4 linked regions of the Homo sapiens genome follow. The protein of the gene in region 1 interacts with the protein of each later gene in a pairwise test. Each region holds a gene or a part of one and is shown on either strand. Other genes may lie near its edges.

Region 1 (7,844 bases):
GAAATTATTCCTTGTGTATCTGGGAACAGCAAGAGGGGGAGAATTGTGATGTCATGAAGTAACAGCTGACAACATGCTCACCTCCTAGAGCTGATGAAGATGCTGAGGGTTGGACAACAGGGACACACCTTCATTTCCTCCATCCCACACAAGAGTAGAAGATTATAGGAGATGGGTTTTCAGATCCCACCCCCTAGCAAACTTGCTCTGATATGCACCTGAGAGCAAGGAAGGCCTAGCTAGGAATGTTTGGTAGGTTGGCTGGGTGAGGTATGAGGGCAGCAGAAATGCAGAGCAGTCTTGCCAGAAAAGGTGAGAGGGTCATGACAGAGTGTGACAAACAGGTTCACTCAATGCCGATATCCAAGTCTCACCTATATTATGTGCATGTCTCATTTCAGTTGTCATAATTGTCTCTGTAATTTCCTCCTGAGTAGCGGTCATAACCACCCTGGTTTCTGGGGGGGAAAAAAAACACACAAAAGTTTTCTGGTACTGCATTATATATACCACTGTAATTATATGCGTCACATTTTACAGTATGGGTCATAACATAAACCTTACGTATCAAAAACAGGATATGTTAAGCATATGAGTATCACAGTAAACAGTTTTATGGCATACGATTTATACGCAGTATATTAAATCATATTACATGTTAAAGCAATATAGTTATATAACCCACACAGCACAACATATATAGTATACTTTACCATGTCGCAACTATATGACTACACAATTAACTTAAAATGCTAAATTTCATACTCATTTTAGGTACACATTAGTAACAGCAAGGTGTGGTATGCATGAACACCCAGGCGCTGAGTTCTTAAGGAGAGGGAAGCAATAGGAGAACATCCCAGCCCTTTGGCTACCCACCTGCCATTATAGTCTCTGGAACGTCCATATCCATATCCATACCCTCCAGGTCGACTGTCATAATACCTGCCACTCCCATAGCCCTGGTCCCCACCACCTAGAGCAGAAAAATATTTAAATGGCAGTTGTCCACACATAGGCAACTCTCCCTCTCACCCCATGATCAAAACGATCACTGCACTCACCTCTAGAGTAGCTGCGACCACGCCCATGGGCCCCAAAGCCACCTCCTCTGGTTCCCCGAGCAGACTTGCCTGCATGATCCACACGGATCTGACGACCATCCAGAGACTAAGTGTGGGAGACACAAGGATGATGGGTTGGCAGTCAGTCAGGGCAATGGTGAGGGAAGAGCAGGCAAGGGTAAGTGGGCAAAAGAGGCCAAAAATTCCTGCTGGGCACCAGGTTCTGGGTGCCATGTTCCAGAATAAGCTCCTTTACCCCAGAATGGCTTCATCAGGAGCTATAGAATCCCACACAAAATGACCTGAATGCACCATGTTCCCCTTGCTACTACTTACATCTTGACTGAACTCAGGCTGAGTTCTCCTCCCCACTCCTCTAAGCTGCCCGACTATCAGGGCTAGACAGACACCTCTCTTGGTTTGAGGCTTCAGAGTCCATGTCAGAAGACTCACGAGGTCCTCTCCGGGCCAGGCCCACAGGTCTGCAGACTCTACTACCTAAGCCCAAGGCAGGTCAACCATCCACAGGTGGCTTCTCGGCCTCATGCAGGACCAGTCGTCGCCTCCCAGGCGGCCAGGCTCTGTCTGCCGCTGCCCTCCACCCCCTAGAACAAAAGGCAGTCATGCTCCTGTGAGTGGGCACTGCGGGGCTTGGTGGCCACGCTGCCCCGAGCAGACACAGAGGGAAAAACAAAAAGAATGAAGGAAGCCGCAGATGGGGACAAGGTCCCTCTGCAGATAGGAGGCCCCACCTCTCCGTTCATGGCTCTCATGGCAACTGAAGCATGCTCTGGGTTGGTGAAGGTGATGAAACCAAAACCCCTGGACCGCTGAGTCTCCCGGTCCTTGACAACGACCACTGTGAGAGGGAGAGAAGATGGAGCAATGTGGACCAGTCAGTACCCCAAAGGTTAAGTAGCAAAGGGTGGCCGGAAAAGGAGATGGCATAGGTAGGGAAAACGGAGCGCTCCCACTAATCCCAAAGACGCTTCCCCTCATCCTTAGTCTACACCATAGGCTTAGGAAGAAAAAGAATTTGGAGGCGTGGGTCCTAACTTTTCAGTTAATACTCCTTGAAATGCAAGGATCCCAGACTTTCTCTCACCAACCCCCATTGTGAGTATGGCCCGTCTCACCCTCAGAGATAGGTCCGAAACTGCTGAAGTGGTCTTCCAGTGCCTGCTCGTCGGTGTTAAAGTTGAGCCCTCCCACGAAGAGCTTTCCTTCTTCAGAGGACATGGCAGTTCAAGTCCTGTGGGAAGAACATGAAGAATGGTGGCAGGAAGGAGAAAGAAAATGGAGATGTGAGAAAATAGCGAGACGGAAAGCAGAGAAAAAGCACAGAAAATAGACAAGAAAGAGGAACAAAATATGGGTAACTACAGAAAAGCTGAGAAAGGCGGCCAATAAGGTGGTAATCTGAGGAGCTGGCTCAGCGCAGCCACCATTAGGGGGCCACATTGCGCATGCTCTCACATTCATAGCCGCCACGCCCGTCATTTTGTGCCACTGCGCAAGCCCAGAACATCCCTGCGTTCCCTTAACGCCGGCAGAACAAGATGGCGGCGGCCACGTGGGATAAGGAAAGTAAGTGTCGGCTGTCGCGTGGTCACTGCCACCACCGACGCCACCAGTCCCTCCCGGTAGGCCTCACACTCAGATACAGCGCGCCGGCCTCCCACCAACCGAAATGTTTCACCTCCAAGCACGGGACCCGCCCGTCCCAGAGAAAGCCAAGCCTACGTGTCAGTGGCCATTACTCTCCCCACTCGCTATTCCCCGGTCACGGCCGGCGCGGCGCGTGTGTGGCGAGGAGCCGCCGTTTCGCAGGACATATGCAACTTACCTGGAAATTAAAACGTAAAAAACCCGGACGAACAGCGAGCTCGGAGGAGCACAAAAAACAGGGACGGGGCTGCGCCGGAAGACGATTGATAAAGAGTACGTAGCGAGAACGTCCCGGAACGTTCCCCTTGCGCGTCCCGGCGTGCGTGCTGATTGGCTGAGGCCAGCAGGAGCGGAGTGGTGGGGAGAGGAAGGGACAGCAAAGCGAAGGGAGCAGTGTTCTCCGCGAAATGGGGTGTTTCCGGAAATGGGGTGTTTCCGGAAATGGGGTCGACTTTTGAACAGCTGGTGCACCCTAAACGTCAGCATCCCCCCCACAACCGGCTGAGCTGCCTTTATCCCTTCCACAAAGGAACCTTCTCAATCTCATACTACTTGCTGTCCCTGACATCATCCTCCCGTCCTTGCCATCATTTCCCCCGCTGGATCGGATGTCTTCCTCACCATCGTAGTCGTCTTCCTCTAGGTCCCTGCCATTCTCTGATGTTAACCTCCTTCACCTTCTAGTTCTTTAACCTCATACCCTTTAAAGGCCTGACATTTTATCCCCCACCGTCACTGATGTCATCACCCTTCACAGTCCATGATGTCAGACCCAACGTTTTAAGGTTTGACCCTGACTCCTACTCTTTCTCCTCTGTGCTCAACATCTAGCCGCCTGTCATGGGACCCTTTTCCCTGGCGTCATTCCATCTCATCTCTGACTTCAGCCCTCACCCTTGTCTGACTGCTGGCGTGAAGCCAGCCCCTTAATTTTCTCACCAATAGACTGCCTGAGATGGCTTTTACAAAACAGGATGCTGGCCGGGCGCGGTGGCTCACGCCTGTATTCCCAGCACTTTGGGAGGCCAAAGCGGGCGGTTCACGAGTTCAGGAGTTCGAGACCTGCATGGCCAACATGGTGAAACCCCATCTCTACTAAAAATACAAAAAAAAAAAAAAAAAAAAAAAAAGAAAAAAAAAATTAGCTGGGTGTGGTGGCACGTGCCTGTAGTCCCACCTACTCGGGAGGCTGAGGCTGGAAAATCGCTTGAACCCGGGAGGCGGAGGTTGCAGTGAGCCGAGACCACGCCATTGCACTCCAGCCTGGGTGAAAACAAAACAAAACAAAAGAGGATGCTACGATCTTCAGAGGTTGTAAATCCCAATCCATAGAGCAATTTTTGCTCTCTTCGAAAGTAACTGAGCCCTTGCCGGGCGCAGTGGCTCATGCCTGTAATCCCAGCACTTTGGGAGGCCGAAGTGGGCAGATCACAAGGTCAGGAGTTCAAGACTACCCTGGCCAATATGGTGAAACCCTGTCTCTACTAACAATACAAAAAAAAAAAAAAATTAGCCGGGCGTGGTGGTAGGCACCTGTAGTCCCAGCTACTCAGGAGGCTGAGGCGGGATAATCGCTTGAACCCGGGAGGTGGAGGTTGCAGTGAGCTGAGATCATGCCACTGCACTCCAGCTTGGGCGACAGAGCAAGACTCAGTCTCAAAAAAAAAAAAAAAGTAACTGAGCCCTTGATTCACAGAAGGGACTTTCGCAATACACAATAGACTTATCCCAATCAAGTAGTGTCTGAGCCCACTGTTCACAATTTAGTCTTCAGTGTCTTGGCCACCTTTACAATAAATGGATTTGACAGATTTTTCACTTCTGAGCGCCACATCAACGAAGAATAAGTTAGTTTGCCCTCAGAGGCTAAATTTCTTATCCATAGAATGAATTTGCCCAACACAGACCAAATTTGCTAACATACAGAATACAGTACATCCATATTCCTGTTGGGGTAATTCCCATATTTATCTTCCTGTTATTGTCAGGGATTCCTCACATAGTCTAATTATTAATCCCTTAGGTGTTGGAAATAGCCTCTCCAGCTCTGGCATTTGTGTTATTAACTTTGTAAGCAGTAAACTTAGTTGAATAAAGATCCATAATTTTGATATAATCATTTTTCCCCCTATGTTCTGTGCTTTTTTCTGAGACGGAGTCTCACTCTGTCGCTCAGGCTGGAGTGCAGTGGCATGATCTCAGCTCACTGCAACCTCCGCCTCCCAGGTTCAAGTGATTCTCCTGCTTTAGTCTCCTGAGTAGCTGGGATTACGGGCATGTGCCACTATGCCCAGCTAATTTTTGTATTTTTAGTAGAGATGAGGTTTCACCATGTTGTTCAGGCTGTTCTCAAACTCCTGACTTCATGATCCGCCTGCCTCGGCCTCCCAAAGTGCTGGGATTACAGGCGTGAGCCACCACGCCCGGCCTGGTCTGTGCTTTTAAAGAAATCATTCTCTTTCCCAGGTCACAAAATGTTCCCCTACAGTTTCTTTCTTTCTTTCTTTTTTTTTTTTTTTGACAGAGTTTCGCTCTTGTTGCCCAGGCTGGAGTGCAATGGCACTATCTCGGCTCACTGCAACCTCCGCCTCCTGGGTTCAAGCAATTCTCCTGCCTCAGCCTGCTGCGTAGCTAGGATTACAGGTGTGTGCCACCACACCTGGCTAATTTTTGCATTTTTAGTAGAGACAGGTTTTTGCCATGTTGGCCAGGCTGGTCTTGAACTCCTGGCCTCAAGTGATTCGCCTGCCTCGGCCTCCCAAAGTGCTGGGATTACAGGCATGAGCCACCGCACCCGGCCACATTTAGGTCTTTAATCCATGTAGAGTTCGTCCTTGTATATGGTGTGAGATAGAGCTCCAATTTTATTTTTCTCTGTGTCATGAGCCAGATGCCCCATCACCATCTATTAAGCAATCTGTCCCATCCCTGTGTGTGTTTTACCACCTCTATCATGTATCAAGTTCCATAGATATATGGGTCTGTCTCTGAGGTGGTTTGTTGCTGGTTTTGTTGTTATTGTTGTTTTTAAGAGATGAGCCCAGGCTGACTCCTGGCCTCAAGCATTCTCCCCAACTCAGCCTCCTGAGTAACTGGGATTACAGGGGAGCACTATTGTACCTGACTTCTGAGCTTTTTTTTTTTTTTTGACAGAGTCTCACTCTGTCGCCAGGCTGGAGTGCAGTGGCGCGATCTTGGCTCACTGCAACCTCCGCCTCCTGGGTTCAAGTGATTTTCCTGCCTCAGCCTCCTGAGTAGCTGGGACTACAGGCGCGTGCAACCACGCCCAGCTAATTTTTGTATTTTTAGTAGAGATGGGGTTTCACCATGTTGGCCAGGATGGTCTTTTTTTTTGAGACGGAGTCTCGCTCTGTCGCTCAGGCTGGAGTGCAGTGGCGCGATCTCGGCTCACTGTAAGCTCTGCCTTCCAGGTTCACGCCTCAGCCTCCCGAGTAGCTGGGACTACAGGCGCCTGCTACCGCACCCAGCCAATTTTTTTTTTTTGTATTTTTTAGTAGAGGCGGGGTTTCACCGTGGTCTGGATCTCCTGACCTTGTGATCTGCCCACCTCGGCCTCCAAAAGTGCTGGTATTACAGGTGTGAGCCACCGTGCCCGGCCTTCTCTTCTAATTGGTCTACTTCTTAGCTCTTGGGCCAATATAGGTTTGTTGTTGTTTTTTTTTTCCCTTTTATTACTAACACCTTTAATATGTCTTAATATCTAGTGGGCAAATCCCCATCATAACGCTTTCTTTGAAGGCTGTCTTAACTGTCCATGATTCATTACTATTCTAAATTCTAATGTAAGTGTATTGCAGTTCTAACAAAAAGAAGTAATGAGGTCAGGCATGGTGGCTCTCGCCCAAATCCCAGCTACCTGGGAGGCTGAGGCAGGAGGATCGCTTGAACCCAGGAGTTGGAGTCTGCAGTGAGCTATGATCGTGCCACTGCACTCCAGCCTGGGCAACAAAGTGAGACCCTGTTTCAAAACATTAAAAAAAAAAGTAATGGAAGTGTTATTGAGAGTGCATTGAATTTTTACATTTTGGGAGAAATAACGTCTTTTTTTTTGAGATGGAGTTTCGCTCTTGTTGCCCAGGCTGGAGTAAAATGGTGCAATCTCGGCTCACTGCAACCTCCGCCTCCCGGGTTCAAGCAATTCTCCTGCTTCAGCCTCCTGGGTAGCTGGAACTACAGGCACCCACCATTATGCTCGGCTAATTTTGTATTTTTAGCAGAGACGGGGTTTGTCTATGTTGGTCAGGCTGGTCTCAAACTCCTGACCTCAGGTGATCCACCCACCTCGGCCTCCCAAAGTGCTGGGATTACAGGTGTGAGCCACCATGCCCGGCCAAAATAACATCTTAATAATATTAACTGTGGAGGTTTTAAGATATGGTCACACTCTGATACTGTACTCGTCAAGAGTTGGAGCCTAACTTCCTTCCACTTGCATGTGTGCTGGACTTAGTGACTCAATTGTAAAGCACAGAATGAGGTGGAAGTGATAGTGTGTCATTTCCAAGACCAGGCTGTAAAAGGCACATCTGCTTCATGCTCTCTGTCACACAGACTGCTCATTATGTGGGACATTAGCTGGTATGTCATGAGCAGCCCTATGGAGGGATCTAGGTGGCAAGAAAGTAAGGCCTCTTGCCAACAGCCATGTGAGCAAGCCTTCTTAAAGGTGGATCCCAGCCTTCAGATAACTGCAGTCCTGGCCAACATCCTGATTGTAGCCTCATGAGAGGCTCTGAGTCAGAACCACCCAGTTAAGCCACTCTCAGAATCCTGACTCTCCAAAACCATGTGAAATAATAAATGTGTATTGTTTTAGCCACTAAGTTTTGGGATAATTTGTTAAAAATAACTTATATATTACCAAAATCTTTCCAGCAAAGAGCATAAAATGTCTCTCTTTTATTCAGATCAATTTCTATTGTTAGAGTTTAAATTCTTTAAAATAGAGGTCTCTTGTATTAAATTCATTCCTACTTTTTTTTTTTGTTGGTTATTGCTGCTATACAGAAATGCTTTTGATTTTTACAGGTTGATGTTGATTTTGTATTGGGAAACCTTGCTGAACCCCTTTTTTTTTTTTTAAGATGGAGT
Region 2 (7,031 bases), on another chromosome or scaffold:
ATAACAGTATAATAACACCAGCCAATCTGTTTCAAAGTTATTAAATTCTAATACCTCAGAACATACAGATAACATTTAAATCAAGCTATACTGTCTTCTGTTTCTGATCAAACGTAAAATTTGCTCACTTCTAAATGTTAAACAAAACCCTGACTGCCTCAAGACCCAAGAGAGGGCCTACAGTTGTTCTTTGCTTCTAGAAGAATTCAGCAAATGTAAGCAGTTCTCTAAAAAATGTGGGGAAAAAAATGCCTCAGCAAACCACACAAAATTATCCAATCACTTTTTGGGTCCAAAGAAGTCTGAAATGTTCCCTCTGCTCTGCCACCACATCACTAAGCTCTCTAAGAAGCAGTCAATGTAAGTCATTCAGAAAATGTAGTAGGCTGTCTTGATGATCCTTAATTCAATTCTATACTAAGGTAAATTCCCCCATTCATAAATTTATTTGACTTTTATAAGCTATACTTATATTTTATGATATCATATAATAATTCATCCAATATTTGTATTCAGAAACATATTTTAGAAGTTAATGGCAACAACAACATTGATCTTCTAGATAAAATGTGCATACTAATAGCTGACATTCTTTCAAAGCCTAACATTGGGTCTCTATCACAGGAGACAATGTGGTGTAATGGTTACACGTGGCATCTAGGTGAAAAGGCCTGGGTTTCAACTTTACAATTTCTTTGCTGTGAGACCTGATATAAATTAATTTATCTAAGCCTTAATTTGTTTAATTTGTAAAACTAATGCTAATAACTACACAATAAGGTTGGTGGGTAGATTACTTGTGGTAATGCATCGTCTAGTACAGTGTCTGGCAAAGAGTAAACTCAATAAATGTTGAGATGATGATAATGGTAATAATGATAAATCTCTCATTACCATAAACAACAGAAGTTATGACTTTCTCTGAATTCCTATATCAGTGGTCTCTAAAATTTCTGTAAAATCTATCAGACCTTCCATATACTTATTTATATCATATATGTATATATATAAATATCTGTCTATATATGTAGTTGAATCCCCTATAGATTATAAACCCCATAAATTAAACATTTGATACTTCATTTATTAATAGCACATATCATATGCAGTTTTTTGGGTTTTTCTGTTGTTTTTGTTTTGTTTTGTTTTGTTTTTGAGACGGAGTCTTGCTCTGTCACCCAAGCTGGAGTGCAGTGGCGTGATCTCGGCTCACTGCAACCTCCACCTCCCGGGTTCACACCATTCTCCTGCCTCAGCCTCCCGAGTAGCTGGGACTACAGGCGCCCGCCACCACGCCTGGCTAATTTTTTTGTATTTTTAGTAGAGATGGGGTTTCACCGTGTTAGGCAGGATGGCCTCGATCTCCTGACCTTGTGATCCACCTGCCTCGGCCTCCCAAAGTGCTGGGATTACAAGCGTGAGCCACTGTGCCCGGCCCATATGCAGTTTTTAACAACACACATTCAAGGGCATATGTGATTGTGTAGTCAAATGCAGTAGAGTACTAGTCTGATGGAATTAATCCTCCAAACTATAACTAAAATATAAGGTAAATAGCCTAATGCTTTTATGATTGTTTATTATCTCTCTATACTGCAAAATCTTTTTGGAAGTACTGTTATGAGTCAAATGGAGGATGTGCTAAAAATGACTTCTTTCCTCCAAAAAAGTTAATAACAATGGAGCAAGAGGATGCTTGGCCATGACCTCACAAGTATTTGGCAAATAAAAGATGCAATCACTACAGAACTCTGCACTTGAGAAGATGAGGAAGCCATATAATATGGATATTTGCTAACATTAATGTAGAATATCATCTATTAGTGGTTATTCCACCTCTAAAAAAATTTCCAAATTCAGTTTATTTTATTGGAATTCAGCAGTTTGTGGGGAATAGTACCAAATTTTGATCTATGAAATATATTAAATATTACACGGTTTATAGCTTTAAAAAATCAAACTGATGCCAGAATATAATTCCAATGAAGATATATTTCTCATAATATAGCCAAACCAAAAAGAAAGATCAAATTCAGTGCTCAAATAAGTGCAAAAGGAAAGCTGATGATACTACACAGTTATTTCCAGGGGTTTCTAAAAACTACCTCCAAACCTCACTTCCTCCCCTTGTACAGCTGCTGTGGGAACAAACAGCTTCACTATAGACTGTATACATAAAGAGAAACTGAGAATAATGATCAGTTATGTTCCCATTCTCAGGTACCAGGCCATAAAAAAACCTTAAAATCAGATAAATATAGAGAATACTACTGTGTCCATTATCTAGATGAATTTATCGTGGTCATGCTCATTCCTATATAACTAGTCAATGAAATATTAATATTAATGTACAAGGCCTAATAGTCAATCAAAAGAAAATTTCATAAAAATATAAATTAAAACACATAAATGAATGCGGATGGGACATTACAGATAAACATAAGAAGACTTTCTTTTCTAGAAAGTGGAAAAAAGGAGGCCAATTGTCTCAGTACCACAAGATTCGGGAATGACATTTCAATGGTTTTCTTAGATTTTCTTTGTGCCGCGTATGTGCCAGACTGAGTGCTAGAAAAGCCAGCAACTCAGAAGTATTAAAGGCAGACACGGCCAGGCGTGGTGGCTCACGTCTGTAATCCCAGCACTTTGGGAGGCCGAGGTGGGCGGATCACGAGGTCAGGAGATTGAGACCATCCTGGTTAACACGGTGAAACCCCGTCTCTACTAAAAATACAAAAAATTAGCCAGGCGTGGTGGCGGGTGCCTGTAGTCCCAGCTACTCAGGAGGCTGAGACAGGAGAATGGCCTGAACCCGGGAGGCGGAGCTTGCAGTGAGCTGAGATTGTGCCACTGCACTCCAGCCTGGGTGACAGAGCCAGACTCCATCTCAAAAAATAAATAAATAAATAAATAAAAATAAATAAAAAGCAGACACACACAAAGCCTCAATCCAAACAACAAAGAAACAAATGGGCAGATTCTCAGATACCTCACAGAGTAAAGAAGGACTTCCCTGTACTATCTTTCCAACTTCCTGCATATGAATAATTTTTCAAAATTGACTTAAAAACAAATGGAAACTTTCAAAGTGGCCTCCTGAGGTTTTGAATTATGCAAAGATAAAATATGACTGAATTAGTATTATCATTGTAAGTGACAGAATTACTGAAAAATTGTTTCTGGAGATATCTTCTAAACACATGGTAGGAGAAAAAGGAAGATATGAGGTCAGCATCATTCAGTTAAGAAACATTTATTGAGGCCTTCTACATATAAGACTGAAGGCAAGCATTAAAAATTCAAAGACAGAAGTCATAGTATGGCCCTCAAGCTTAGAGGGGGAGACAACCAAGATCAAAAAGAATTGCATGTTGCAATGTAGTAGTGGTGGATAGGTTGAAAATAAAACCAGAAGTGCACTTAATTTATAATGAATTAGATGAGAAGCCATTATGAAAGGCTTACTAGAAGAAGGAATAGCAGTACTCAGTTTTATTGGATGAAGATAAATTATAATCATGGAGAGAAGCTAGAAAGGGCATTCTAAAGTGAGGTCTTAGCATGTGCAACACCTTAGAGATAGGAGAGGACAGAGAGAAGAGCAAGTGTTATTCACATGCGGAAGAGGTAGCAGAGGGGCCAACAGGGGGCTGGTTCTCAAATCTGATGGAGAAAAGCCTGTTTGGCCTCTACCTGGCACCATCACATACCAGGCACTGTGAAAAGTGCTGCTAATATAGTGATGAAAAAGACTTGGTTCTGCTCCTCAAGAGGAGACAGAGAGGAGCTGTTTCTCTAGTGAGAGAGACAGGCACAACCTGATCATTCTAAAATAACAGTTTGAATAGTGATCTAGAGGCGTTCGTTATGGGAATGAGGGGAAAATATCTAGCTTTCTGTGAATAGGTATGGGAATGTCAAGGGAGTGTAGAGAGTGAATTATAAGCAGTTTGGTATACCTGAGAGAAATTAAGCAGAAAGGCTGAAGAGATGCTTCTGGAGAGGTAAGCATATTATAAGAACGTCAAGGGGTATGGACTACGCCTTGCAGGCAATGGAAATTATTAAGAAGTGTGACATGGTGAGACTTTAAATGAATTACTGTGACAGCATTGTGTGTGTTGGTGTGGGAAGGAGGGAAATGAAGGATGATGAGGGCAAGAAACGGTCAAAAAAGGAAGTAAAACCAGTAGAATATAGTGCCCAGAAGACAAGGAAGATGGAAAGAAATCAGAAGAAGGTCAACAGTGGAAAGTGCAGCCAAGAGACTTGATAAGGGGTCAGAAAAAATTTACTCAATTTGGCAATATGAGATTATTCTGTCACTAGGGTCATCAGTTTCAGGACAGTGATGAAGACAGAAGCCAAACCGAATAATTCTAAAAAGGTAAATTAAGAAAGTGAGGCAGCTAGTATATACTAGTATTATCAGAAGTTTGAAGGAAACAAGGAAGGACAAATGTCAAGAGAGATTATTTTCCAATATTTGTGGCAAGTGAAAGAAGTATTCTATTTCTTCAAATTATTCACATTGAATCATGTTGACAGCTGCTATAAAGAAAGAGTCGATCGGGAGAAAGAGTAGGAGATACAAATAAAGGATTTAACTACAGAATGAGTCCAGAGATGAAGAGCATTTGGGTCAAGGATATGGATGGCAAGTCAACCCTGAAGAAAAGAAACATTTGGTCTTCTGGGAATGAAAGACAATGACGATGGCTATGGAAGTTTTTAGGTGGTAGGAGGTTGAGGAATAGCAGAAGAGAGATATCCATTTCCTCCAATAAAACAGATGATGAAATCACCTGCTGAGAGTGAAGAACATGTGGGTTTAAGATGAAGCCTGAATAGGTCTGAAATTACTCTTGAAATAAATAGGACCAGGGCTAATCAAGCCCATGGTTAAAGACTGACAAGTGATCATTTACTAAACATGATATTTTTAAAACCCTCAATCTAATCCTTTTTCATAAGGTAATTTATTTCATAATTTGCTTTATGAGTTCAAATGTAACTCAGCAGTAATCTAAAGTAAGGCAGTGTTTATTTTACTTATTTTCTCAAATTGAGGTGCATCATCATGTTATGTTTGTTTAATTTCTGCTTATATTTTTGTTATACACATAAAAATTATTGGCCGGGCACAGTGGTTCATGCCTGTAATCCTAGCACTTTGGGAGGATGAGGCAGGTCAATCACAAAATTCGGAGTTTGAGACCAGCCTGGCCAACATGGTGAAATCCAGTCTCTACTAAAAATACAAAAATTAGCCGGGTGTGGTGGCACGCACCTGTAATCCCAGCTACTTGGGAGGCTGAGGCAGGAGAATTGCTTGAACCCAGGAGGCAGAGGTTGCAGTGAGCCAAAATCGCACCACTTCACTCTAACCTGGGCAACAGCGCAAGGCTCTGTCTCAAAAATAAAATAAAATAAATTTTTAAAATACGGCTTATGTTATCACAAGCATCACAAGCAGAAGTTGTTTTTTGTTTGTTTGTTTTTGTTTTTGTTTTTTCATCTTAAAAGAACCCTGCCTGGTAGGTATCACTTTTCCTGTTATATAGATGAAGAAACTGAGTATCAGAGAGGTGGAAAAAAAATGACACATCCTTTATTTCCCAGTAGGTAGAAGTGTCAATAATCACTCCCAAGTGTTTTTCTTGTCAAAGTAGAAATTTTCCACTATATCATAAATTGTCTTAATTGAAGATCAAAGATAACTTGAATTTAATTTTTTGCCCATGTTTGTTTTGTATTTAAGAAACATAAGATTATCCCAAGTCTATTGGGAGAAAAAGGTGATTACGTTAATCAAAAGAAAAGTCACTTTAAAGAGTCACAGGAACACTATTTTTTAACCAGAAGCTGTTTTAGACATGACACTAATAACTTTCCTTAATTAAAAAACTTATCAAGCTTTATGAAAAATATTTAAGAAACACGATCTAACTAAAAAATGGTTCTTATTGATAATCTAAATGTAGTTAACTCACAAGTTTGCATGTGTGGTAAGTATTAATCCCTCTTTTCTTAATATTTTTAAGATCTCATTTATATCTGCAGAAATAAAGGCCAAGTCTAGATGGCAGGTCAAACTTTTTACTAAAGTTTGAAAATAGCGCCTACAGTTTTTTGAAAACCATTCGAACTGCTGGAATATTTGGCAATATTTGACATCGTCATATAATGAGTCAACCAAAATGGTTATGATTATTTCAGTGCTTGCAAAGATTTCAGGCTAGAAAATCTTCCCCAAACCTCTCTTAATTGGACAAAAATTTATAATGCTCCTAGGAGTATGGAATCACCATAACTGAATATATAAATCTGAACAGATCTATGTCTGTCAGCAGACACAGAATATTTCCAGATAATATTTTCATGTATATACATTTTTGGCCTCAAACATTAATAGTAGTTCAATAGACTTAAGAACATAAATCTGTCCCCAGTACCCAAAATAAAGTATATGCCTCAAATTACATTTTAGTGCCATAAATATATTATTAATCATTAAACTAGGAAAGAATGAAAAAAGTTTCAAAAATGTGCAGCCATTGAATTTTTGTTCCGAATATACAAACATCACTTCGTTGTATCATCAGTAGCCTGAGACTTAATTAGAATTGCAAAAAAACATATACATCACTTAGTCCAACTCCTTAATTTGAGAGACAAGGAAACTGGGCCCAGGGAAAGAAAGCTTACCCAGATTCAGTTGAGGTTAAAGTGGAATTCAAATCTAGGTATCTAGATTCACAGTTTAATGCACTTCCCAGAAGCAGAAAAGATATAAATAAACTTATGTAATTTCATCTGGCAACCAAATTCAGACACTGAGTAGAACTTTAAGGATAGTCCTGAGTTTGCTGTTTTATCATATTCAAAAGCACCTACCATAACAAGTGGATAACTAAACAACATTATAATCGCAGGATGAACATTATTTTAATTATTTAAGCATATTATAAACAAACTTCAAACTACATTATTCAAGAACTCTTCTGAGTAACAATCAACTGAAATCATTC
Region 3 (7,592 bases), on another chromosome or scaffold:
ATTGCTGCAATATAGCAAACTCCAGGTAGTTACCCAAACAAGCCATGTGGTTACACAAACCTACCTCCTCACTTATACATGCGACTCCCTCCTCTTGGAATGCCTTTTCCACCCCCACAGGTCTAACCTTGCTCCTCCTACTCACCCACATCTCAGGGAAGGCTGACCTCTAATCTCTCAGGAGCACCATGGTACCATGTGCTCATATGCCTTTATTTTATCTATCATTGCATTTCACCTACCACCACTTCCTGGCAAGTCCTTCCGACCTCCTAGGCTGAGAATTTTCACTTGTATCCTTAACCCCTGGGTCCAGAAAGAAAACTTAATGCGTATGACATGGATAAAGCCTATAGGTAAGGTAGTCAAGCAGGCAGAGTCAAGGCTATCCAAAGCAGTTCAGGACAAGCAACCTCACTGATAACTCCCAGAACCATGAAAAATACACTCCCTTCGCCAGTGACCCAGCGCCTTTAGGAATTGAGGTCTTACGGCGTGCAGCAGCATTCCTTGGTTTCCTGGGCTTGCTCTCGCTAGTCTCCAAGAGTTGACTGGGAAGAAGCCACCTGTGTCAGCCATGGGAGTAAACCACTGCTAACGCTGATTCTCCAGATGGTTGCTCTTAGGGGCTGCAGAACTGACTGCTTAGGGAGCATCTAAACTACAGGGAGGATTCCAGTTCCAGCCTACACCACCAATCCAAGATGGAGCCACCAGCACAGGGGCTCATGGCCCACTATTCAGAAGACTAGGCCAGGGCTTGGGGAATAACCCTTTCCCTTACCAGACCAGACAGACACTGGGCTCCAGGAGACCCTCAGAACCCTTTGTTCTGGACCTCTGCTAAACGCGAGCCCACCATGCCCTTTTCCAAGTGCGCGGATTTGGAACCACCATAGGGCCGCAGGCCATCTCAACTCCCAAGGAGGAATAGTAGGGATTCCACTTTTTGAGAATCCTGCCCTCTTTCCCAGAAAAGGTACTTAGAAAGGAGTGGCTAAAACCTCAAATGCTTTTTTCAAGACTTAGAATGGCCACATGGGTCACCCTTCTCACCCAACAGCAGTGGGTCTGAGGGTTTGCCCAGTACCAGCCTCTTGGGCAGTGTGAAGTCCCCACTGAAGTAGACCCTTTAGCAGAAGTGGGGTTCTGGGTCCCCATTCAGCTTTATAGGAGACATGCTCTCCCCCAGTTTCAGCCCACAGCAGGGGGCCAAGCAGAGACTCCAAGTACGCTAGCAACCCTGTCACCCTCCCCAACTGTCAAGGGAGATTCTAACAGCCAGGTAGAGTCAGGATGGGGGCAAGATCCCCAAAGCCAAGGGCCTTTTGGCATCAAGGTACAAGGAGGGCAAGGCCTCTGGAGCCCAAACAAATCCACCACACTTAAGTCATTAGTGGACAGATGTCACAGTTGTATATTCTTCCCTTCCCCTTCCGCCAAAAAGTGGAGATCCAAACCTAGATTGTCATCGACTGGGGCTGGCTGAAGGTCTCTGAATAGCCGAGTGGGAGCTGGCGGCGCTGAGCCCAGCCCAGCCGAGGGCCACCGGCGCCATTCTGCACCAACCCCCAGCACAAGGGGAGGAGGCAACACCAGTCCACACCAGGGGCTCTGCGGTTTCTCCCCCAGGCCAAGGGGAAGGGCGCCCAAGGTGGATAACCAGCCCTTGGTTTCCTGGGCGAGAACATGCCAGGGCAGGGGCAGGAAGGCTCTCTCACCCCTAGAATGACGCAGCAGAGGCCAGAGGCCCTGCGAAGCCTGTCCCCTTCTACTCCAGTTCTTGTCTCCGCCAGCCTAGCTCCTCGTCCCTATTCACTGATATCTTTGAGGCTTTTATCCAGCACCCCACCCCGCACACACATCCTCCCTACCATCCATTAACCACCCAGCTGCTGGTGGTTCCACGGAGCCGCCTTACACTCCCTCCCTTTCGCACATGGCCGGTGGACGAGATGATTTCGCCCCTCCTGGCAGGATCCCACCCAGGCCAGCTTTGGGGTCCTGGCTTGGTTGCCAGGACAAACCCAGAGAGAGGAGAAGGACGAACTGAGTGTCTTTAGTCATCTTCCAAACTAATTAAATTGTGGGCTCACCTCTGCCAAAGCCCAGGTTCTGGGGCTGTGAAGAAAGCCCGCCCACCCCCATGACAACAGCTCGCAGGAACCGAGGAGCCGGCCGGCCCAGGCCTCCAAGGTCACGGGGAGGGGGTCAGGGCGGAAAAGGCAGTGGAGTGAGGGTGCCGCCCTCGGGCCGTGCTAATCCCGCTCCGCTCCGTGCCGCCGAGGCGGGGTCCTGGCCACGCAGGAGGTGCGCCTCGGAGGAGGGCGGCGAGCGGCTACGGGGTGGGGAGCAAGGGGCGCGCGGGCGGCAGGCATGGAACGGACGCGGCGCATCTCGCCCACCGCGGGACGCCCGGACGGCGGCCGGCGCGCGCGGCCCGCCTCGAGCCCGAGAGGGCGGGGAGACAATGCCTGTCCGGCGGGGCAGTCCAGGCCGCACGCTCCCGCCCGCGGACACGGGCCGCTCCTACCCGGGCGAGAGGGCAGCGGCGGGAAGGCGCCGGGAGCGATGGCCACCCCGGCCCCGCGAGGCGCGGCAGGCCCCGCTCGCCCTCTCCCGCGCCCGCCTGGCGTGCGCTTCACCCGGCAAGTCCCGGGGCCACAGACCCACCTCCTCCTCCAGGGCGCCGCCGGAGCCCGCGCCGGAGCCGGTGCCGGTGCTGCCGCCGTGCTCGCCGTCCGGCTTCAGGTTGCTCATGGTGCGGGGGAGGGGGCGGCGGGAAGGAACGCGAGGGCGAGCGCGGCGCCGGCCCCGCGGGAAGTGGGAAGGGGCGCGGGGAGCGGTGCGCTCGCGGGTGCGGAGCGGGTGGCGGGGGACCCACGGGGCAGTGAGAGGGGCAGCCTCCGCGTCGGGCCAGGGTCACATCAAGTTTGGCGGGTGCGGAAGGTGGGGAGGGGGTGCGGCGGGGGAGGCAGTGGGAGCCGGAGGGGCCGCCGCCTCCGCCTTTTCACTGCGACCGGCGAGTGCGCCGCGGCGGCGGCGGCGGCGGCAGCGGCGGCGGGGGGCGGGCGCCGGGGGAGGGGGCGGGCGCCGGCGGCGGGGGGCGGGGCCGGAACCGGCCTCAGCTGGGGCCCGGCCAGCCCCCTCCCCCGCCCGCCGCGCGGTCTCCGGGGGAACGCGCAGCCAATCCCCACCGCCCACCGTGGGCTCGCCCCGGCCCCGGCCGCGGGGCGCCGGCCTCCGGCCGGGCCTTTCCCCTCTCTCTCGCCTGGGTCAGCGCTCTCCCTCTCTCCTCTTCCCCCGCGCCCTTCTCCACGGCGAGTTTTTAAACTTTGATGAACTCGCCCGGCGAACTTTCTTAAAGGGGCCGCGCGCTGCGCGCCCCAGCCCGCGGGAGGTGGAGCCCCGTGCCCCGCACCCAGCGCCCCGGTCCCTGGGCGGCCCTGCCCGGGCGGCCTCGCGCTTAGGGCACCCGCAGCGAGGTTTCCGGGCCGTCGACTCCCCTTGTATCTTGATCTAGGGTTTTGGGGTTCCCGACGCACTCATTCTGCCCCTAAATCCAGTCGCGCAGACCTCAGCTCCGGGGGACCGAGTTCTGGGGGTGATGGCCGGGGGGAGGGGGTTGGGAGACACCTGAGCTTTGGCCCGGGCTGGGCGCTGTTTTGCTGAGTGACCTTGAGGAAATCACTTCCCCTCTCTGGCCTCAGGCTCCCAGCCCAGAGGGTGGGACTTAGGATCTCAAACTCCCTTCCCACTCCCAGTCACTATCTGAATAGGACTTAGGTGGGGATTCGAGTGTTGGGACCCCAATGGTCATTAGCGAGGGCTGCCTCGAATGACCAAGAAGGTTCTGTTGCCCACCTTGCCCTCAACACGCCTGGCTTTCGGGTCTTCTCGCTCCTCCCCCGACCTCAGTGCCCCTCACACCTTTCCCTGCCTCCTATTCTGAGCCCGAAGGCTGGGGACGGATGTAATAGCCTAGAGGCTGGGGGAGGTGGGGGAGGTCGTCGTGACTCCCCCCGCACCCCCGCGCAGGTCAGTAGGGCGCGGCCTCTGGGTCGGTTTTCTCTTCTATTTGAAAACCCAGCCGATGGGGGCCCGCCCTGCTGCCACAGTAGAAACCCGCACCCACCTCGGGGAGCGCTGGAAGCGCTGCAGCCTGAATCCGGCAGAGCCGCGGGAGAACTGGGTCCCTCCTCAGTGCCCCTTCTCCTGGACGGGGCGGAGGTTGCGGTGACCCGAGATCTTGCCATTGCACTCCAGCCAGGGCAACAAGAGCGAAACTCCGTCTCAAAAAAAGAAAAGAAAAAAGAAAAGCTGGATTTGCAGTCACGGACTGGTTAGGATCCCAGACCGTGGACAAGTGCCTGAGCCCCCAGAACCTCTGTGTGTCGACCTCCTGAATTAGGTAGGACTAGCACCACAGGATCACTGTGCTGTGGCTTAGTCTTCCCAGTAAATTATAATCTCCATCCTGACCTGCCATCTCACAGATAAATTGAGGCCTAGAGATGGGCAATGTCTTTCCAATGATATACTCATTCCTTTAGTAAATAATTATTGAGCACCTACTGTGGGCTGGGGACCATTTTCTGCTGGTGGCAAGGCCAAGAGCACCCTGGTTTCCCATCAGCCCTGTTGCCAACACTTGGCTCAGGCCCTATGAAGAGGGAGCTGCTGCCTGTAGGAGCCAGACCTTTACCCAGAGTTTTTAAGATGCCTCCAGCCTCAGGCATCTCCAGATAGAACCAACCTTGGGAACCCTCAGATACCCCTACCATCCTCCACAGGCCTCAGTCCAATCTGGCTGTGGGCTTGATCACCATCCCCTCCCCTAGAATAGGTCTTCCTATCAGGTTTGTCTCTAACTTTGGCCCAGGAATACTCTTCCTCTTCCTCTTCCTCCCCCGCTCCCCCTAATCAATCCAAAATCTTCCCTTCCCTCAAGATCCTGCCTTTCCCATGCTTTTTCCAGGAGAAGGAGCCTGGCCAGATTTCTGAACTCAGCCATTATATGGTTAATTTGAATTTTTCAAAGAAGAGCCTCTCATCTTGTAATTCTGGTCACCCTTCTTCTCCATTCTGGTCTCTGTTTTCTCCATAGATGGGAGAGCTAAGGCCCAAAAAGGTGACAAATGACACAGGGGCCACAACTGACCCCCATCACTACATTTCTTTTCTTTTTTCATTTTTTTTTTTTTTGTTTTGGGGGCTTTTTTGAGATGCAGTCTTGCTCTGTTGCCAGACTGGAGTGCAGTGATGCGATCTCGGCTCACTGCAACCTCCACCTCCCAGTTTCAAGCTATTCTGCCTCAGCCTCCTGAGTAGCTGGGACTACAGGAACGCACAACCACGCCCAGCTAACTTTTGTATTTTTAGTAGAGACGGTTTCCCCATGTTGGTGAGGATGATCTTGATCTCTTGACCTTGTAATCTGCCCCCATCAGCCTCCCAAAGTGCTGAGATTACAGGCGTGAGCCACCGCGCCCGGCCTTCTTTTCTTTTTTTAGAAAAAAGATCTTGCTCTGTCACCCAAGCTGGAGTGCAGTGGCACAATCACAGCTCACTCCAGCCTTGAACTCCTGGGCTCAAGTGATCCTTCTACCTCAGCCTCCCAGGTAGCTGTGATTACAGGTGCAACACCACGCCCAGCTAATTTTTTTTTTTTTTTTTTAAGAGACTGGCCTCTCATTATGTTGTCCCAAGCTGGTGTTGAACTCCTGGGCTCAAGTGATCCTCCCACCTTGGCCTCCCAAAGTGCTGGTATTATAGGCGTGAGCCACCACACCCAGCCTGTATTTCTTCTTAAGTTCTTCATAATTTGTAGTAAATGCTTACCCCTTATTAGACTGCCATTACTTATTTAACCTGTCTCTTGTTAGATATTTGTATTATTTCCAGTTTATTTTCTCTTTTGCCTTCATAGGCAAACTTTATATGAGGATTCTTTTTTTTTTCTTTTTCTTTGAGACGGAGTCTCACTATGTCACCAGGCTTGAGTGCAGTGCATCCTCCATCTCCCAGGTTCGAGCAGTTCTCGTGCCTCAGCCTCCTGAGTAGCTGGGATTACAGGTGCCTGCCACCACACTCGCTGTCACACCTGGCTAATTTTTGTATTTTTAGTAGGGACAAGGTTTCACCGTGTTGGCCAGGCTGGTCTTGAACTCCTGGCCTCAAGTAATCTGCTCACCTTGGCCTCTCAAAGTGCTGAGATTACAGGCATGAGCCCGCCCTCTTATATGAGCATTCTTAATGCCTCAGAAAGTTTCCTGTATGTGTGACCAGCCCTTAAGCACTTTGGAGGCAACAACTGTCTTTTCCCTCTCTGTGCACCCCTATGGCCCCTGAAATGGCAGAATCTCCAATCTCACATGGATTTGGAGATCATATAAACACAAAGCTCCCACCCAGCCCGCACCTTCATGAGTAGTCAGGCGTACCCATTGGTGCTGACCAGAAGCTGATGTGAAAGAGGCTAGAGAGAGGAGTTTGGGGTGTACAACTCTTTCAGACATCTGAAGGGTAGGAACTTATATCTCTGTCTCCCCAGCTATGACCTAGTAGTGTAGCCTCTAGTAATCTCTTCAGTGCCCCAGGCCTCCCCCACTGTCATGCTCCATATCACCTCTGAGCTTCTCGAATTTCTATTCCTTTTGTCTGGAATCCTCCCATCCTCACTCTCCACCCCCAGCTTCCAGACCTTTCCCAGTACCCATTCTCTCTCCCCTGTGCTCTCAGAGTGCCTTCTCTGTGTCGTGTTGAACCTGGGAATACCTTGTTTTGAAGTCTCACCTACCACATGGGAAGCTTTCTGACTCCAAGGAGTGGCTGTAAACCCTGCTGAGTGAGTAGAACTCCTTAACCTCTGCAGCCCCCTGGCCTCCAGCAAGGAGCAGATGATGGTGGGCATTTTCAGTAGTAGGTGTTTAATAAACCTTTGCTGAACCAATACTGGGCTATTCCTGGAGCTTCTGGGCTATCTGAAGCCAATGGCCCTTTCTCTTTGATGTACTGTACATACATCATCCTTCAATATTTCATCCTTAGGGTAGGGAAAAGAGATGGCCTCACTCCTGGGAAACACTGCCCTGGAACTCAACTCCTGAGAGTGTGCCTGGCTACTTCAGGGCAGGCCCCCATTCTGACCCCAACTTTCCCACCACCAGGAAAGCCTAGGCAATAAGAAGGCAGATAGAAGCTGGGCTTGGTGGTGTGCGCCTATAGTCCCTGCCACTTTGGAGGCTGAGCTGGGAGGATTAATTGAGCCCATCAAGTCTAGATGGGGCAACATAGCAAGATCCCCTCTTTATTTAAAAGAAAAAGAAGAAAGGCAGGTAGAGAGGATGACCTTGAAGCTTAAAGGCTGAGATGTGTCTGAGTTATATTTTCTTTTTCTTTATTTTTTTGGGGGGAAGTCAGGGTCTTGCCCTGTCACCCAGGCTGGAATGTAGTAGCACAGTCTTGGCTCATTGCAACCTTCACCTCCTGGGTTCAAGCGATTCTCCCACCTCAGCCTCCCAAGTAGGTGGGAATACAGGATCCCCCCACCAGGCCCAGCTAACTTTCCCTAGCAGGGTTTCACCATGTTG
Region 4 (3,960 bases), on another chromosome or scaffold:
CATGAGAATTGCTTGAACCTGGGAGGCAGAGGTTGCAGTGAGTCGAGATCACGCCACTGCACTCCAGCCTGGATGACAGAGCAAGATTGTCAAAACAAAAAATAAAAATAAAGTCAACTTCAAAGAAACAGTAGAATGATGGTTACCAGAGGCTGGGGGAAGGAAGCTGGAGGAAGGGGAGTTTTGTTTAATGGGTACAGAGTTTCAGTTTTGCAAGATAAAAAACTTTTGGAGGTCGGGCATGGTGGCTCGTGCCTGTAATCCCAGCACTTTGGGAGGCCAAGTCGGGCGGATCATGAGATCAGGAATTCAAGACCAGCCTGGCCAATATGGTAAAACTCCATCTCTACTAAAAATACAAAAATTAGCCAGGCGTGGTGGTGGGCGCCTGTAATCCCAGCTACTTGGGAGGCTGAGGCAGGAGAATCACTTGAACCCAGGAGGCAGAGGTTGCAGTGAGCCAAGATCGCGCCACTGCACTCCAGCCTGGGCGACAGAGCGAGACTCCATCTCAAAAAACAAACAAAAACTTGGAGATCTGTTTCACATCAATATGAATATATGTAACACTACTGAACTGTACACTTAAAAATAGTTAAGATGGTAATTTTTATGTGTTTTTTACCACAATAAAAACCGAACAAAACAAGGCATGATGATTCATGCCTGTAATCCCAGCACTTTAGGAGACCAAGGTGGGAGGATCACTTGAGCCCAAGAGTTCAAGACCAGCCTGGGCAGTGTGGCAAGACCCAATCTCTCATTAAATAAATAATAATAACCAAACAAAAAAATAACCACCACTTTTCACACTCACCATGGCAAAATTTAAAAACCTAACAATTCCAAGTGTTGTCAAGGCTATAGGACAACTGCTGGTGAGAGTGCAAATTGGTATAACCACTGTGAAAAAAAAGTTTGGCATTATGTATGAAACTTGAGCATAACATATACTTTATAAGCCAGTAATACCTCTACTACGTATATATTCAACAGAAATGCATACGTATGTGTAACAACATGTATAAAAATGTTTATAGTGGCATTTCTCGTTATAGCCCCAAACTGGATACCACCCACATGTCCATCATCAGTAGAATGGATAAATAAATTGTTGTGTATGCATGCAATGGGACTACACTGCAACGAAAATGAATGAACTGCTGCTACAGGCAACCTGGATGAATCTCACAAACATGATGTTGAGCGAAAGGAGCCAGACATAAAAGAATGCAGACTGTATGATTCCATTTTTGTGAAGTTCAAAAACAGGCAAAAACTAACCTATGGTGTCAGGATAGTGGTTACCTTTGGGGAGGAGGGTGGGTAATGGGAAAAGGGGCACAAGGGGAGGATCTTTTGAGGTGCTAATAAGGCTTTATCTCTTCACCTGGTGGTGGAAACTCAAGTGTGTCTACTTTGTGAGAACTGGGTTGTGCACTTAAAACTGGTGTGTCTTTATGTATGCTGTTCTTCAATAAAAAAAATTTTTTTAATCACGGTTTATCAGGATTCAGCTGCCCATTAGACACCTTTCTGTGTCTCTCTCTCTCTCTCTCTCCAGCTCTTCACAGAGGTCCTCCAGGATCAAGGGGACCACTGATTCCACCACTGCTGAGTCTCCCACCTCCTCCTTGGGGTAGAGGCCCAATTCGGAGAGGGCTTGGCCCCAGGTCTAGCCCATATGGTCGTGGTTGGTGGGGAGTCAATGCAGAACCTCCTTTTCCGGGGCCAGGCCATGGGGGTCCCACCAGGGGAAGCTTTCACAAGGAACAGAGAAACCCTCGAAGGCTCAAAAGCTGGTCTCTTATCAAGAATACCTGCCCGCCCAAGGATGACCCCCAGGTTATGGAAGGTGAGGTCCATTTTGTTATGCCCATTACTCCCAGAGTGACCTAATTTTCAGAAGATCATTCACAATCTTCTCTGGGCTTTCCTTTTTGCTTTTGAAGCAGAAGTAGACCTCAATGTTATTTCTCCCAGGAGAAAGACTACCATTCCAAAATACCTGGAAATGGTAGGGGGTAGAAAATCAGTTCTCCTTCTGTCTCTGCGTTTCATTGTATTTGTTTTCTTTGTTGCTCAAATTTTTAACTGTTCCATTTTCACTTGTTCACAGACAAATCCGACCGCCCTGTCTGCCGACATTTTGCCAAAAAGGGCCACTGTCGATATGAGGACCTCTGTGCCTTCTACCATCCAGGCGTCAATGGACCTCCTCTGTGAGACTGTGCCTTCCCATCCAGGCTGGAAGGAGCTCTCTGTGACCTAGCGGCCATTTATTTCTCTGTAGCCCTATGATGGCTACTGTGAGGCTCTTCTAACACCCTCAGTCAGTGACACACCCATCCCATCCACCACTTCCCCCGTGTGGGGTCCAGAGTGGTGTTGCATCACTGGTGCGCGGCATACGCGCTTTCTTCTGATCCAGCCTGTAGAGACTCGCCTTTGGGACCCATCTTTGCTTCCTTTCAGTTGCCTCCTGGATCTTCTTTCCCGTCATCAAATGACTGCTGAACAGGAAACCTCTTTGGTGCTGTTTCTTGTGCATCTGTCCACCTGTTCCCCAGTATTGCCCTCAATTCCTGAGAGCCCTGGAGCGGTTTCCTACCATTCCCTTCTTTTAGCTGCTTGTTTTAAGTCCTTTTTATGTGACATTCCCTACCCCCAATGTTGTCAGCTGCTTGTGAAACTCAGCCAGGTTGTCTAACCTGGGGTCAAGTTTGGGTGACTGGTGCAGAGTTACTTCCTAAAAGGCCACTCTCCCTGCCTTTGGATTTCATAGTTTCTCTGTCAGTAGCATGATCCCCACCGCTATGGTCTATCTATGATCACCGTGCTTTGTGAAACTGTGCATCCCCTTGTAGCCTTTCTCAGTGTCCGTGGCATTTTTGTGACTTCCCAGCACTAGAATAAGTTTTCCTGCCAAAATGAGTGAGGCGCTTGGTGCCCTCTGGACTTTCCCACTTCCCAACATGGGAGAATTGTGAACTTTCCATCAGACTGCCTCCCTGGCCCTCCCCATTCTTCTCCTGTTGGTTATTCTGAGTCTGACACAGACCCATGACATGTCTTATAAAGCCTCCAATGGCTTTATCCTACCTAGATCCCTTCCAGCCCATTTTAATTAGACTATGTCATTGTGAGGCCACCAGTCCATTCATTTGAATTCTGTGAATCTCCACCTTGCCTATCTTTGGGTAGAAGCTGGACAGTACTGTTGCCCTCTTCCAATCCTCTTCCCCTACATCCCTGGCACTGGTTGTTTTCTGTGAAAACAGCAGTGAACAGGTTCAGTTTTGAACTGGCCCTGAGGAAATGGGTCAGGAGTTGTATTGGCAAGAGGGAGGGGTGAGAGCTGTTGGAGAACTGAGAATGAGGTTTTTTTTTTTTTTTTCTTTTTAACTTTTTTTATATTAGTAATAAATGCAGTGGAAACCAGCATTTTATTTAATCCCTGTGTTCTAGTCATCTCTGGAGTTGCAGATGAAGCTGTTCTCACCTGGTGGAGTCAGCTTATTCTTTAGTTCATACACACTAGTGATGGGGAATGACAAAGCTTAAGGTTCTTCCAGGCTGAAAAAAACCAATGGAGGTTCCATTAGCCTGTAGGCATCAACCAGAACAAGCTGCCTTATGTTCAAGGGCAAAGTTTTGTAAGAAAAAGGAAAGGCCAGGTGTCCGTGGAGTTATTTTTAAATATTTTACTTTGCAGAGTTTGTGTTTATGGAGTGGTAATGATGAAGGAGTCTTTCAGCAGCAATTTGCAGAATGCCTGTGGGCCAGGCAATATACCAAGCACTAGAGATAACTGACAGCCAAAGCCAATGGATTTAAAATGTACAGGGAAGACAGGTTTCTCATAATCACAAATAGCATGTAAAGTTAAACCTGTCAAAAGTGCTGGGAAGAAGACAGGGAAGAAAAGAGGGTGAAAGAGAGTTGTGTAATAAAGGGAGT

Evidence for each region.
Region 2: the proteins of RBM3 (region 1) and KHDRBS2 interact in binary tests that used the Homo sapiens proteins (3 or more experiments, as listed by UniProt).
Region 3: the proteins of RBM3 (region 1) and RBPMS2 interact in binary tests that used the Homo sapiens proteins (3 or more experiments, as listed by UniProt).
Region 4: the proteins of RBM3 (region 1) and PRR3 interact in binary tests that used the Homo sapiens proteins (3 or more experiments, as listed by UniProt).

What each region holds. Positions count from the first base shown.
Region 1 is NC_000023.11:48,569,640-48,577,483, reverse strand, and holds the start of RBM3 (RNA-binding protein 3), read right to left. Parts: upstream 3,001-7,844; 5' UTR 2,911-3,000; intron 2,317-2,910; 5' UTR 2,304-2,316; coding exon 2,201-2,303; intron 1,924-2,200; coding exon 1,817-1,923; intron 1,171-1,816; coding exon 1,065-1,170; intron 977-1,064; coding exon 880-976; intron 459-879; coding exon 398-458; 3' UTR 375-397; intron 20-374; 3' UTR 1-19. UniProt on the Homo sapiens protein: Cold-inducible mRNA binding protein that enhances global protein synthesis at both physiological and mild hypothermic temperatures. Reduces the relative abundance of microRNAs, when overexpressed.
Region 2 is NC_000006.12:62,276,205-62,283,235, forward strand, and holds part of KHDRBS2 (KH domain-containing, RNA-binding, signal transduction-associated protein 2), read right to left. Parts: intron 1-7,031. UniProt on the Homo sapiens protein: RNA-binding protein that plays a role in the regulation of alternative splicing and influences mRNA splice site selection and exon inclusion. Binds both poly(A) and poly(U) homopolymers. Phosphorylation by PTK6 inhibits its RNA-binding ability.
Region 3 is NC_000015.10:64,772,560-64,780,151, forward strand, and holds the start of RBPMS2 (RNA-binding protein with multiple splicing 2), read right to left. Parts: upstream 3,031-7,592; 5' UTR 2,761-3,030; coding exon 2,674-2,760; intron 2,185-2,673; exon of another isoform or gene 2,097-2,184; intron 1,893-2,096; exon of another isoform or gene 1,878-1,892; coding exon of another isoform or gene 1,875-1,877; intron 1-1,874.
Region 4 is NC_000006.12:30,560,270-30,564,229, forward strand, and holds the end of PRR3 (proline-rich protein 3), read left to right. Parts: intron 1-1,058; coding exon of another isoform or gene 1,059-1,097; exon of another isoform or gene 1,098-1,496; intron 1,497-1,564; coding exon 1,565-1,855; intron 1,856-2,119; coding exon 2,120-2,226; 3' UTR 2,227-3,454; downstream 3,455-3,960.